3 separate regions of the Homo sapiens genome follow, and all the other regions are linked to region 1. Evidence: fine-mapped expression QTL. A gene starts in region 1. Each other region holds a variant in brackets. All regions are shown on one strand. Distances are from middle to middle. Region 1 holds the start of PUDP (pseudouridine 5'-phosphatase). Region 2 overlaps STS (steroid sulfatase). Region 3 holds the start of LOC107987331 (a long non-coding RNA gene).

Evidence for each region. PIP is the estimated chance that this variant, and not a neighbour inherited with it, causes the effect. A credible set is the group of variants that fine-mapping cannot tell apart.
Region 2: its variant is the best candidate, but not a certain one, in a credible set for the expression of PUDP in B cells (CEDAR, PIP 0.52).
Region 3: its variant is the best candidate, but not a certain one, in a credible set for the expression of PUDP in tibial artery (GTEx, PIP 0.84).

Annotation. Positions count from the first base shown.
Region 1 is chrX:7,145,784-7,150,026 of GRCh38, reverse strand. It overlaps PUDP (pseudouridine 5'-phosphatase), which reads left to right and starts at 1,874. Exons shown (of 4, transcript NM_012080.5): 1 at 1,874-1,974. The coding sequence starts at 1,914. STS (steroid sulfatase) reads right to left here and starts at 2,315. Exons shown (of 11, transcript NM_001320752.2): 1 at 1,944-2,315. MIR4767 (microRNA 4767) reads right to left here and starts at 2,167; the gene lies at 2,090-2,167. RefSeq lists an enhancer at 1,395-1,444 and a silencer at 1,635-2,354.
Region 2 is chrX:7,238,239-7,242,481 of GRCh38, reverse strand. The region is part of intron 2 of STS (steroid sulfatase); the gene reads right to left. Among named protein-coding and RNA genes, the nearest start is that of PUDP, 92 kb to the right of the region's middle. The variant C/TAC (reference allele first, on the strand shown) is at 1,951.
Region 3 is chrX:7,010,251-7,014,493 of GRCh38, reverse strand. It overlaps LOC107987331 (a long non-coding RNA gene), which reads right to left and starts at 1,995. Exons shown (of 3, transcript XR_001755781.2): 1 at 1,839-1,995. It also overlaps a transcript of PUDP not described here. The variant G/C (reference allele first, on the strand shown) is at 1,886.

The sequences.
Region 1 (4,243 bases):
TGCAATGCATCTATTATGGAATTGTGTTCCCAAAAATATATGTTGGAGTCCTCATCCCCGCTACCTCAGAATGTGACCTTATTTGGAAACAGGATTTTGTCAGAGGTAATCAAATTAAAATGTAGTTATTAGGGTGGTCCTTAGTCCAATAAGAATCGTGTTCTTATAAAAGGAGAAAATTTGGACACAGAGACACACACAGAGGGAAGACGATAGGACAAGATACAGGGAAAGGAAAGCAGGTTCAAGCTGAGGAGAAAGACCTGGAATAGGTCCTTTCCTCACAGCCCTCAGAAGGAATTAAGACTGCTGACATCTTGATCTAGGACTTCTGGCCTCCAGATCTGTGACACAATACACATCTGCTGTTTAGGTTACTTAGTCTGTGGTATATTACTATGGCAGCTGTAGTAAACTAATACAGAAACCACGAACGACTGTATTTGAGGCGCAAGTCCCTACCTAATTTGCTCATAAATTGCCTTCTCTGAAATCCCGTGTCCTCAAAGGGAAATCACGATTGCATTAAATGGGGGAAGCTCTCTTATAGTACCACCTCTAAGAACACATAATTTTATTGACTATATATTATGCACTGGTACTAAGGGCTTGGCCTGCCTCACCTCCTTTATCACCTCCATTTTACCCAGGAGGAAACAGACACAGGTGCACTTTGTCTATCATAGATAATAATTCTTGCTGAATCCAGGCATGCCCCTGTCCACTATGTCTGCACTAAACTAGAAATACACTCTCATGTTTACACCTTTTTTTTTTTGTCTTTTTCCCCTTTTGTGGAGAACAGGGTCTCGCTATATTGCCCAGGCAGTTCTTAAACTTCTGGGCTCAAACTATTCCCCCAACTCCCACTTCTGCCTCCCTAAGTACTGGGATTACAGGTGTGGGCCACTGCGCCCAGCACACCCTCACGTTTTTAAAGTCTTGAAATTCTCCTATTTCCGCTTCTCAAAAGGTCCAATCCTTTTCCTTAAACGTGAATATACCACATAAACGAACACGAAATAGAAACAGGGACAAAAAAGTATTTTTTTGACGATGGCAAACGGGAAAAAAAAAAAAGAAAGCTGTTTAGGTGGCATTTGAAAAGTTAAAAAAGAAAGAAAACTCAGAGCAGCCCAAAAGACAGATGATACCTAAGAAGGCACAACCAGCAAGACATGTTGACTGTTAGTATTATTTCAGCATCCTCCTTGAGCAGCTTGGCTTTGCTCTGGGACAATGCACCAGCCTGGGATGCTCAGAGATGCAGGCACGGAGGTTGTGCAGCCTCTCCGCACACTGCGCATGCGCGGCTGCCGGTTCAAGTCGCGGTCCAGGACCGCAAGGAGGCGGGCAAGCGAAACTGAGAAAAACCCACCCACGGTCCAGGGACTGGGGGCTCGGGCGAACCCACCCAGGGACCTCCTGACCAAGGCCATTTGTCTGCAACCTGATGGCTAGAAGTGATACCACCCTGAGCATCTTCAATCCCCTTTCCCCACTCTACAGCCCCTTGTACTGTCCCTCCTTCCTCATTCACACCCCTGATCCAAACTCAAGCACTGAATTTGTCCCCAGACGAGGGCCTCGGCTCTGCGCGGCCGCTGGCTGAGTAGCTTGGCCCGATTCCGGGTGTGAAGTGAGGAGGAATTGATGCGGGTAAACATACAGCGCCGGCCCGCGCCGCATCCCGGGTCTGCAGCTACAGCTGCGGCGAAAGCCCAAGGTGCGCGTGCGCGGAGCGCCACTAGGCAGCCCAGGACGCGCGGGCTCGGAGCCGGGCGAGGGGCCGCGGAAGGCGCGTGCGCAGAGCGACCCCGGGCGCGCGAGAAGGTCCTCAGTGCGCGTGCGCGGGGCGGGCGGGTGCGCGCGCACTTCCTCCTCGCCCCCACCCAGACCCAGAAGGCGCCACCATGGCGGCGCCCCCGCAGCCCGTCACCCACCTCATCTTTGACATGGACGGACTTCTTCTGGGTGGGTAGTGTGCAGCCGCCGCCTCCAGTAAGGGCGGTCTTGTGTGGGCGTGGGGACGGTCGGCGCGGGGTACGTCACGGCCTGGGGGCCGCGGCGGGGCGGTGTTCATGCAGGGACGCTCGGGCTCCCGCGCGCTCTGCCCCCGGCTGGCCCCGAAGTCGGGCGGCGGCCAGGAGCGCCCGCGGGCCCATGTCCGGGCTGGCGGGCGCGCGTGGCCGCGGCGTCTACGCGGCCCCAGCACCCGCTTCCGGTCGGCGGCCCGCGCGTGGGGCCGGAGCACGTGGGAGCAGTCCCTGGGGTCCACCGGGCGGGCGCGCGGCTCCGCGTCCTCTCCTCAGAGCGAGGCGCGGCGGGACCTCCGCGCTCTCTTTTCGGTTACGCATGCGTGCGACCTTGAGCGGTGCCCAGCCTCAGCTTCCCCGTCTGCAAAGTAGCCTGGAGGATACTTGCCTGCCTGCTCCAAGGTTGCTGCTGTGGGCGCACTTTGATGGTAGCATCCTGCATGGTAGCGGTTCTCTACCTGGCGGTTTTGCAGCCCTGAGGGCATCTGGCAATGGCGATGTCAGGAGACATTTTGGCTGTCACAGCTGGCGAGGAGTGATGGGGTCACTGGCATCTAGTGGAGTCCAGACCAGTGATACTGTTAAACTTCCCGCAGTGCACAGGAGTGCCCTATGCAACCATAAGGAATTATCCCGCGCCGTCAACAGTGTAGAGGCACAGAAGGTCCGTCAAGTGGCCTGGCTGCCTAGGGTGACCAGCACCGGGGACATCACCTGTGGGCTACTTGTAAATGTAGAAGCTGGGGCCCCACCCTACCCCTGCCCAATCAGAATCTGCATTTTAAGCGCGTGAACGTTTGAGAACAGCTGCTCTATCAATCCGAGGCATTAAGAAACCCTTGGCAGTGTACTAAGGTAGTCAGTCTTAGCACATGTGAACTTCACCAGCCAAGAGGAATTCAAGTAGAATTCAAAGAATAAAACCCTGTTTTTAACTCAAGACAGAACTATGCTGAGCTCTACCGAAAGCCTTGACACAGTTAACACTATGACACATAATCACCAGGAGGCTTCATATATCTATAAACATGTCTGCATACTCTTTGTAGACAGCTGACCTGCTTGGTTACGTATATCATTCCTTCATTTCAAAACCCTGCAAGTTAGGAGGAAGTATTTGCATGTCACTAATTAAAAAAAAAAAAAAAAAAAAAACCCTGCAGCTCAGAGAGGTAAAGCTACTTGCCCAAGGTCACACAGCTAATAAGCCAAGCTGAGAAACGATTCTGGATTGATCCAGTTCTAAATATAAATGATGTTGAGCTCATCTTAAATTGTGAATGTGACCTTGTTTCTGCTCATCATATTGCTGGGTAATTCCCTAGCAGTGTTTCCTTTTAAAAAGGCATGCAGAAACCATTCTCTTCATTTTATGAACACAGAGGTGTAAACTGATGAATTCCAAAGGAAAAAAAAAATCCCCGTAGAGGTCACTAATTGGAGCCAACGGTGTATGCAGCTACTAAATTTGAAATGACTCAATTTCAGAAAGCTTGTGGGATACATAGGTATAGTTTGTAGACATGAATTTTCCTACTCCGGTGGTCAAAAAGTTAAATTGTCAAATAAATTTCTTATCCTCTAATAAAGGTCCAGAGAACCTGTTCTGGGAGTCTCATGAATTTTAATACCAAACAAGATGTCTCATTAAAATTAAATTTATTAAACTTCTAAATGAGCTTGGTGCCTAATTCTGATTCTAGATTCACACATAGCCATGCCCTGAAGTGATGAATGTGACTTAAATGGCATTACAAGCATTGACCTCACATTGTTACCCAATCCTCTGATCTAGTCAGATAACCAAGAATTAGTGCTATTTGGAAAAATAAGCCCTGCTTCTTTTTATTCCCCCCCCTCATTTTCTGCCCATTTCCTCCTTTCCTGCCCTACCTCTTCTTTGAGGTGGTAAGGCCTTGCAAAACTTTCTTGGAAATATACCTTTGTTTATCCCATTCTTTCACCAAATGTGTAAATATAAAACACAGCTTTCCAAGATGTGCCACTTTAATTTAATCTACCAGATTATGCCTGCTGTCATTCTTTAGCACCTCACTTCAGTGTATCTGTTGTTTGCATAACAATATACTATCAATTTATAATGAGTTATTTTACAATAGGTCTGTTTTTCGGGAATTTTGAATGCATTTTTCTAGGAAGTTCTGTTTGTCTATGTAGCCCCAATACTTGCATACTTGGGGAAGTAA
Region 2 (4,243 bases), 92 kb before region 1:
ATTACAAGGGCACACCACCATGACCAGCTAATTTTTAATTTTTTTTTTTTATAGAGACAGGGTCTCTCCTTCTGGGTTCTTAGTACTTATTGATTCAGCAAGGGAATCATAGTAAGAGGCCATAGTTGTTCATTATAGTTATTTAATAATATTAAGTTATTATTAACTTATAAAGTTATTATTAAAATTACAACTATTAATAATAATAAAATGTTATGTAGAGTATAATAAGTACACTAATAGAGTTTTGAACAAAAATGTGGTCAGCCAACTAAAAGTGGCCCCAGTGACTTCCCTTCTGGTATTCACATCTGATACAATCGCCTCCTGTTGAGTATGGGCTGGACCTAGTGATTTACTTCCAATGAGTAGGATATGGAAAAAGTGATGAGATGTCAATTCTGTGATTGGGTTGTAAAAGACTATGACCTCTATCTTGCTGGCAAACTCTATCGCTTGCTGGCTGTGGATGAAGTAAGTGGCCATTGTGGAGAGACCCATGTTATAAGAAAAAGAGAGAAGTGTCCAGCCAACAGCCAGCAAAAAAAAATGAGGCTTTCAGGTGAACATCCTGCAAGGAACTAAGTCCTGCCTGCAACTATCTGAATGAGCTTGGAAAGAGATCCTGCTACTTTTGGACCACAGATGAGACCACAGCCATGACACCTGAAGTAGCCTGAAAGAGACGTAGAAGCTAAGGAGGATCCAGCTAAGCTGTGCCCAGATTTTTGACCTACAGAAACAATGAGATAACAAACGCAAGTTGCTTTAAGCTGCTAAGTTTTGGGGTAATTTGTTACACAGTAGTAGATAACTCCAATAGCTTGAGGTGAGAAGGTCAATTTTGTCAATGAGGACGAGAAAAAAGCTCCCCAGGACAGCGGCTCTGAAATGTCATGTTGAACTTATTTTAAGAACATGTTTCATTAGTAATGAGTCTCAGAATTTATATAAGCAATTTAAGGACACATGTCTCTGCTCAGCAACCATGTAAAAATGAATTTTTGTTTTATAACTGAAAGTTGAAAGCACCTGAATTAGAAAAGGGCATTTAGGGTAGACCAAAGGGAAATGGCTAAAAAAGAGATTAAATAGAGCAAAATTCAGGCTCTATATGAGGACTAACTAAAATCTCACCAAAAAAACCTAGCTATTTAGAGACCTACTTTGGACTATTATGCTTTGTGATTTTTGTACACAAAAATTGATTTTTTTAAATAAATGTTTTGTTGTATTTTTACTATTATAAATGTACAAAAGAGAAACATCAACCAGCCACTCAGAGAGCCACTCAGGTAATATGTGTGTTTCTCTCCATGTTCTTTGTTTTTTATCATTATTGTATAAGTTGCTGATGTTGCAGTATTCCTACAAACTGTGCGCATTGGTTGGTTGGTTATTTTTTCCATGCAAAAGTCTGACTGTGAGGTGGAGAAGAGGTCAGGATAAATCATCGTGATCAGACATGGAGGGCATTTATCTTTTTCCTTTCTGTTGTTTTAGGTTTGGGGCATTTATCTTTATCCAGAAGTGATGAAGCAGAGATTGAGGACACTAGGGATGACAGGCATGGTTTCGTTTCACTCCCGCAGGCATTCTGGTTGCTCCCTGGCAGAAGGGTTGGGCAGAAACTGGAGTGGATCGCACGACAATGGCCATAACCCCCCAAGGAAGCTGGTCCAGACTAGCACAGGGGCAGGTGGGAGAGAACTGGAGAGAACTGAGCCGATTTGAGACACAATCAACATGAGCTGGTAATTGCCTGGATGTGAAGTGTCAGAAAGAGGCAACAGTCAATGATGACTTCAGCCTTGTTCCTTGGAAAGATACTGGTCCCATTAGCTGGGTAGGGAACAATTAAAAATACTGGAGGATTAAGATTATGAATTTGTTCCACACCAAGATGCCATCATAGAAGGGATCCATTTTATATATATATATATATATACA[C/TAC]ACACACACACACACACACACACACACACACACACACATACATATCTGTGTGTGTGTGTGTGTGTGCGCGCGCGCTCCTTGGAGAAGATTCATTTCCATTTTCTATGCTTTGTGGTAAAAGGGTTAGTTCAGGTGCAGACCATTTTATTGAAATTGAACACAATAGGATAAAAGCCCATTAATAATTTTTCATGCCTATATTAATCTCTGAATCACAAAATGATTTTGGTTAGCTCAGCATATCATTCATTATACCTCCAAAATGTGCCTGGAGGTAGATATTATCAGGACTAGGATGAGAAATACCATCTAGCCCAATTAAGAATGTGTGAAAATTTAAGTTTGTTAAGAGCCACTTAAGGCTGGTCAGGGTGGCTCACACCTGTAATCTCAGCAATTTGGGAGGTCAAGGCAGGTGGATCACTTGAGACCAGCCTGGTCAACATGGTGAAACCGTGTCTCTACTAAAAGTACAAAAAATCTGCCGGGCGTGGTGGTGCTTGCCTGTAGTCCCAGCTACTCGGGAGGCTGAGGCAGGAGAATCGCTTGAGCCTGGGAGGCGGAGGTTGCAGTGAGCCGAGATCGAGACACAACACTCCAGCCTGGGTGACAGAGTGAGTGACACTCGGTCTCAAAAAAAAAAAAAAAAAGCCACTTAGAATCCCACTGTATATAAATTATTACCAGCAGAAGTAAGTGGACTTTGCTTTTTCTTTCCTACAAGCCTGGCTTACAAGAAGGTATTGATAAAGAGGTTTCAAAAAACTGAAACAGAGTCAGTTAACATAAAAGTACTTAAAATTAAATAAAGCTGCTCCACTCCAAAATATTAAGAACATGGCACATTAACTTCTGAAAAACTGCATAATTTTCCCTTTAAAAATTATTTTTCTGAACAAACTTAATTTGGCAAAAGAGCACGAAAAACTTTTTTTGTGGAGAAAGCAGCTATTCCTACAACAGCATCATTAGGAAAGAGAGAGACAAAGGAACATTTTTATAACTAGAGATGTAATTATATTAAATTTGTTCATTAGAAGAAAATTAACAATGTGCTTACGTAACAGAAACTTTAACCACAGCAAAGAAAATGTTCCTGATCTATTTGCTCGATGGGGAAGAAGGCTTATTAAAAACAGAGAAAAACTTGCACGACAAACAATATTTTTTAGAAGAAAAGCAGCTTCGTTCAATCCAAGGTATGTACACTGGTGAAATTTGATTCACAAAGTGCTATTATCCAACAAAGGTCCTGTTTTAAATCGATAAAGAAAAATAGTCTGACATGAGGACAGAAAAAACCCATTCTGAAATTGTGTCTAAACAGACTTTTCTATAGATTTAAATACCTATTTAAATCACTTGTGATTTTTCTAAAATAAATGTTCATGTTTTATTGATTTAGCGAATCTGTTTCTATCGACTATACAACAGTACCTGGTGCATTGGTCTTTGTATTTCTCAATACAATCAATTATACCTAGTATAGTTGAATTCATTATAATATACATTGAGTATTAATAAAATACTAATTAAAAATTATGTTTAAAAAAGTAAGCCTTGCCTAACCTGTTTGTTTACATTTGAAGTCTTTACACTGAAGTCTTCACTTAGTGAAGACACACTAAGTGTTGCATGTGTGAAGATTCTATTGGTTCCTGCTGATTTTTTAATTTTTTAAATTAAAAACACAATTTTTAGAGACAAGGTCTCACTCTGTCACCCAGATTGGAGCACAGTGGTACGATCACAGCTCACTGCAGCCTTGAACTCCCCAGCTCAAGCAATCCTCCTGCCTTAGCCTCCTGAGTAGCTAGGACTACGGGCATGCACCACCACACCTAGCTAATTTTTAAAAAAATTTTTGTAGAGATGGGTTCTCGCTATGTAGTCCAGGTTTATCACAAACTCTTGGACTCATGGAATCCTCCCACCTTGGCCTCCTATGTAGCTGGGATTACAGGTGTCAGCCACCACTCCTGGCTTTCCCCTTATTTTCCCCCTTCTCTGTCATTGCTCCAGTTGATGCATCATGAGATGGAGGGGAGGACAATCAGCAATGGATCCAGAGATGGTAGCTGCCATCCTGTTGCTGCTGCTAACTAGCTGTCAACATTTGGACATGTCACCCAGTCTTTGCAGGTCCCTGTTTCTACAGCTGTACAATAAAAAGGCTCCTATCATGTCTAAAACCCTGTGATGTTTATGCTTCTATAATCTGATGCTTTTTCTCTGAATCTACCTGGAGCTAAGGAGATGGAATCAATGTAAATGTCCATCAACGATGACTGGA
Region 3 (4,243 bases), 140 kb after region 1:
TTGCTAATTCATCATTACCAAATTAGATGCTACGAATTGGCACCCTAGTAGATTGAGTGCATTCACTCCTACTTTCCAACCTCCAAATTCTGGGTTCATGTTGTGACCACACATTCATGAAATTGATATGGACAGGAGACAGGGAAATACTGGGTAAAGAAGGCAGTTCCCCAGCAAAGTCCCCACCCTCAAGCCTGGAGACCCGCGGCCCTAAGTGGGAAAAGTTGCCTTTTTGCCTGCCATGTCCCCCTATCCTGTACCCATATAAACCCCAAACCCCAGGCTCCAGAAGCAGATGAGGAGATGAGGAGACAAGCAGACAAATGGCAGATGACACGGCAGAGAAAGAGAGAAGGGAAGGAACGTGTGAATGCCAGGAGTTAAACTGGGGGTGGTCAGAGGGAATTTTGGCTGCTGGATGACCAAACTCCAGGGGAAGATCATCTTCTCACTCCATTCCCCCTTCCAGCTCCCCATCCATCCTGCTGAGAGCCACCTCCACCATTCAGTAAAACCCCACATTCATCCTTCAAGCCTGTGTGTGTGACCCAATTCTTCTGGGACACTGGGCAAAAGCTGGGAATACAGAAAGCTGTCACACTGGCCCTCTGCCCTTGTGAAAAGGCAGAGGGTCTATTGAGCTGGTTAACACTTAAGCCATTTGCAGACAGCAAGACTAAAAGAGCATTGTAAACCTTAGGCTGCAGGCACCCCCCCTCCCCAGACACTACTGCGGGGCTGGAGCCCAAAGCACTCACTCCAGCCCCCGCACCTGCCCATCTGTGTGCTCCATCTCCCATCAGGGGTTTGAGCGACCAAGCGGGCGAGCCACACGCCTGTTGCACTTCCTGTGAGGTGGATCAGGGAACTCTCCTCCTTCAAAATGGCTAGTGGTAGATATGGAGTATAGATTAGAGCTTACATACCAGGGCCAGCACTCTGTTTTAATCAGTTTTAGCTCACCGGAGACACTCAGCAAAGCTGACAACTTATTCCCATGACAAGAGATTCCCCAAATCAGTATTCCCAAATTACCACCTTTGCTGCAGAATCATAGCATGGAAAACCAACCTATGCTTGCTATTCTAATTATTTTTCTTCTAATTTCATCTCTGGTTGTTGGCCTATTCCCTTGAAGTTGATATTGGATTGATTAGATCCCGGATTCTAGGAGTAGAACTTTTTAAAAAGTCACTCAATTTTATTCCCTGGAAAACCAGTCCAAATCTCAGTCATCATTTTTCAGGACTGCTGAATGACATGTGTGCTTTTCTATGCCAAGTCTCACCGAAAAAAAGAAGCTTTTGTTAGCACTGGGTCAGAGCATTCACTGTGGTATTATTTTTAACTTCCTGTGCCTAGACACATCTTGAAAACTAATCAGGAATAAGCCTTTTGAGTTCTACCTTTATTTTATTCTTTAAGCATTTAATGGAATTAGTCATTGAATTCTATATCCTCTTGATAAATCAGTCTCCAATTACAGAAATGAAGAAAAAAATTAAGAGTGAACTTAATGCTACTCACATAGGGAGGAAATTACACCCCCCACCCCCACTACCATCAGACATTTCTATTTTATTTTCACAAATGACCTTTCTCCATATTGCTGAATGGATAATACTTTTAACAGAAGAAAATGCCTTTGAGATCAACAGAGGACATTACGTTTCTGATGAGTTAGGAGCAGGACTCCTGTAGAATAACTCTATACATCCAGGAGCAACCCATTTGCAGAGAGAAGTCAAGAGAGTTCCACGGTGCACTCAGGTCTGAGTGGCATCATCTCTCACCAACCTGTAACGTGTGCACCATCGACTTTGCACATTGGCACTTACCCATAGTCCGCTCACTGATGTGCTTCTGCAGGTTTAAAGTCCCCTCA[G/C]TGAGAGAACAAGAGGATCCCTTTTCTTCCTAATCTAATCCCTTCCCATCACCCACCCTGCCTTGCTGGGATCAGCAGCTACTCTACCGATGACTCTGCCAAGCAGAATGAATACCTTTCATCTGAGCGTGCGGCAGTGACTCTCTCAGCAAAGAACTCTCTATCCTTGTGGAGCCAAGGGGATCTCTGTAAAGAGAGAGCTATCAGGAACATGTGTCCAGGGGCTAAAGATATGAGGCTTTAGAAGAGAAATGCTTGTTAGTTTCCAAAGATAAAATCTCAGCAGCTTGCTAATAATATTTATGTAGCACCTAAGTGCCAAAAGCTCAAAGCTTTTTTCTCCTATAATCACATAACTGGGCTGGCATCAAAACACGTCTCCAGAATGGCTCAGGGGTATCTATTATCCCCATTTTCTCACAAAGGAAACCAAGATAAAAGGTTTAAATGGTTTTGCACAGAGGGACAGAGAAGACATTAGAAGTAGGGTCAGAAATAGAAGAGAATCACTCAATTTTTACTCTAACGGTGTTATACAACTCTCTGAAATAAATAAATGCTTTGATGTGCATGTTTATATACACAAATCATACACACTTCTATTCTCCAACTGATACAGTTCCTTGATGTTGTAGTATTTATTTCAAAACATAAATGATCTCAATGAAAATACCTTAATGCTAGTGCAAATGCTAATCTTGATATGAGCCACAGGTTCATAAATCAGACCATAGCAATCAAGTCTTTTCTATGGATGTTGTTTCCAGAAGGTAGGTGCCTACTCAGTTTCTTTTGAAATTGTGTTTAGTTCTCAAGCCCTTGAAGGATCCAAGAAATTGCTCTAGAGGAGGTTAAAGTGAACATGCTCTGACGAGGAAAGCCATGGATAGAAACCAAGGTGGAAGAGCAATGTATAAATGCTACCGGGCAGTTGCAGGGGTGCTGCCTGCTCCCCACACCTTTTCTTCCCCAGGCATTTTCATGTCTTCATGCTGATAGAAAGTCCCCTGGTAATGGCATGAGCATGGTGATGTGCATAAGTAGATGGCTTGTGACTGGAGGAAAGAATGGCAAAGGAGCTATGCTTTCATGAGGGAAGGAAGGAGGGAGGGAGAGAGGGAGGGAGCGAGGGAGGGAAGAAAGGAGGAGAGAAGGCAGGAAATGACAGAGTCAGCATACAGTACACTGTTGGGTATTTTCCACTACCAGACACAGTGTACAAATGCTGTTCGTCATCCTGCACCCTCTGTTACTATCTTAAATCTCTAAACGAAATCCAGAACCAAGTGGGCTACTTCCTAACTGATACCCATGATTTCATGGAGAGAAGATTCTGTTGTTTTGCAAGCAACAAAACTGGAGGGAAGTAACGATATTGGAAGATAGCTAGGCAGTTCATCTCACTATCATGAGGACGTCCCCATTGTCTGCAATTGGCCTTGTCTCTCATGGGTTCTTACAAACAAGAGGGAGAAATGTACTCAATATCTCTACAATTTGGTTAATTAATAATCATGGTAGCAATCAAATCCAAAGGGCACATTTGCCCCAATCATTACCAACCCGAGATGTTTCTAATGAAGAGCCTTTAGAACCTGGGTTGAAAGTAGTAATTGATAGTTGAATGGCCAAGGCTTGGCACTGGTTTTGTTGAAGACATTTAATCAGGTCCGACTCCAGGTTCTCTGTCATAACAGTGCTCACCCTCTTGGATTGTGCTGTGCTGTATTGAATAAAGGAAAGGGTCAGAGTGAGAAACTGTCATCCTGTACCCATGAGGGGATGCCAGGAAGGCCGGGCTGGGCACATTACTGAGGACAGTGGGCTTCAGTCTTGGTTGCATGTTCAATGAGCCTGGGGAGATTCCAAACATCCTGATGTCCAGATCTCACCCCATAGCATTACACCAGAATCGTGGTGGGTGGGATTCAGCATGGGTATCTTTTATAGTTCCCCAGGCAGTTCTGGTGGGTGGCTAAGTTTGAGAAACACTGCTGCAAGGACTTTACTCTGCTCTTTGTCTCTATGGGCATCTTTTGGATGAAGATTTATGGACATTGAATCACATGAGTCAAAAATTGTGTCTCCCATAAGAGGCTCTGCACATCTGCTGACAGACCAGTGTATCAAGTTTAAGACTTTTAAAGGGGCTGTTCATAACAATCTGCCCTTGGATTCAGAACTCTTGGTACAGCATCCGCAGTGGTGCAGCATCCACAGTGGTGCAGTGTCCATAGTGAATGTGTAACATGGTGTGTGGCCAAGATGGTAGAGAGTCTTGGAAATCAAGCCCTGTGAAGAATGGATGAAGATGCAGAGAGTGTTGGGCTCTAGGGACAGAAGATTTGGGTAGAATGA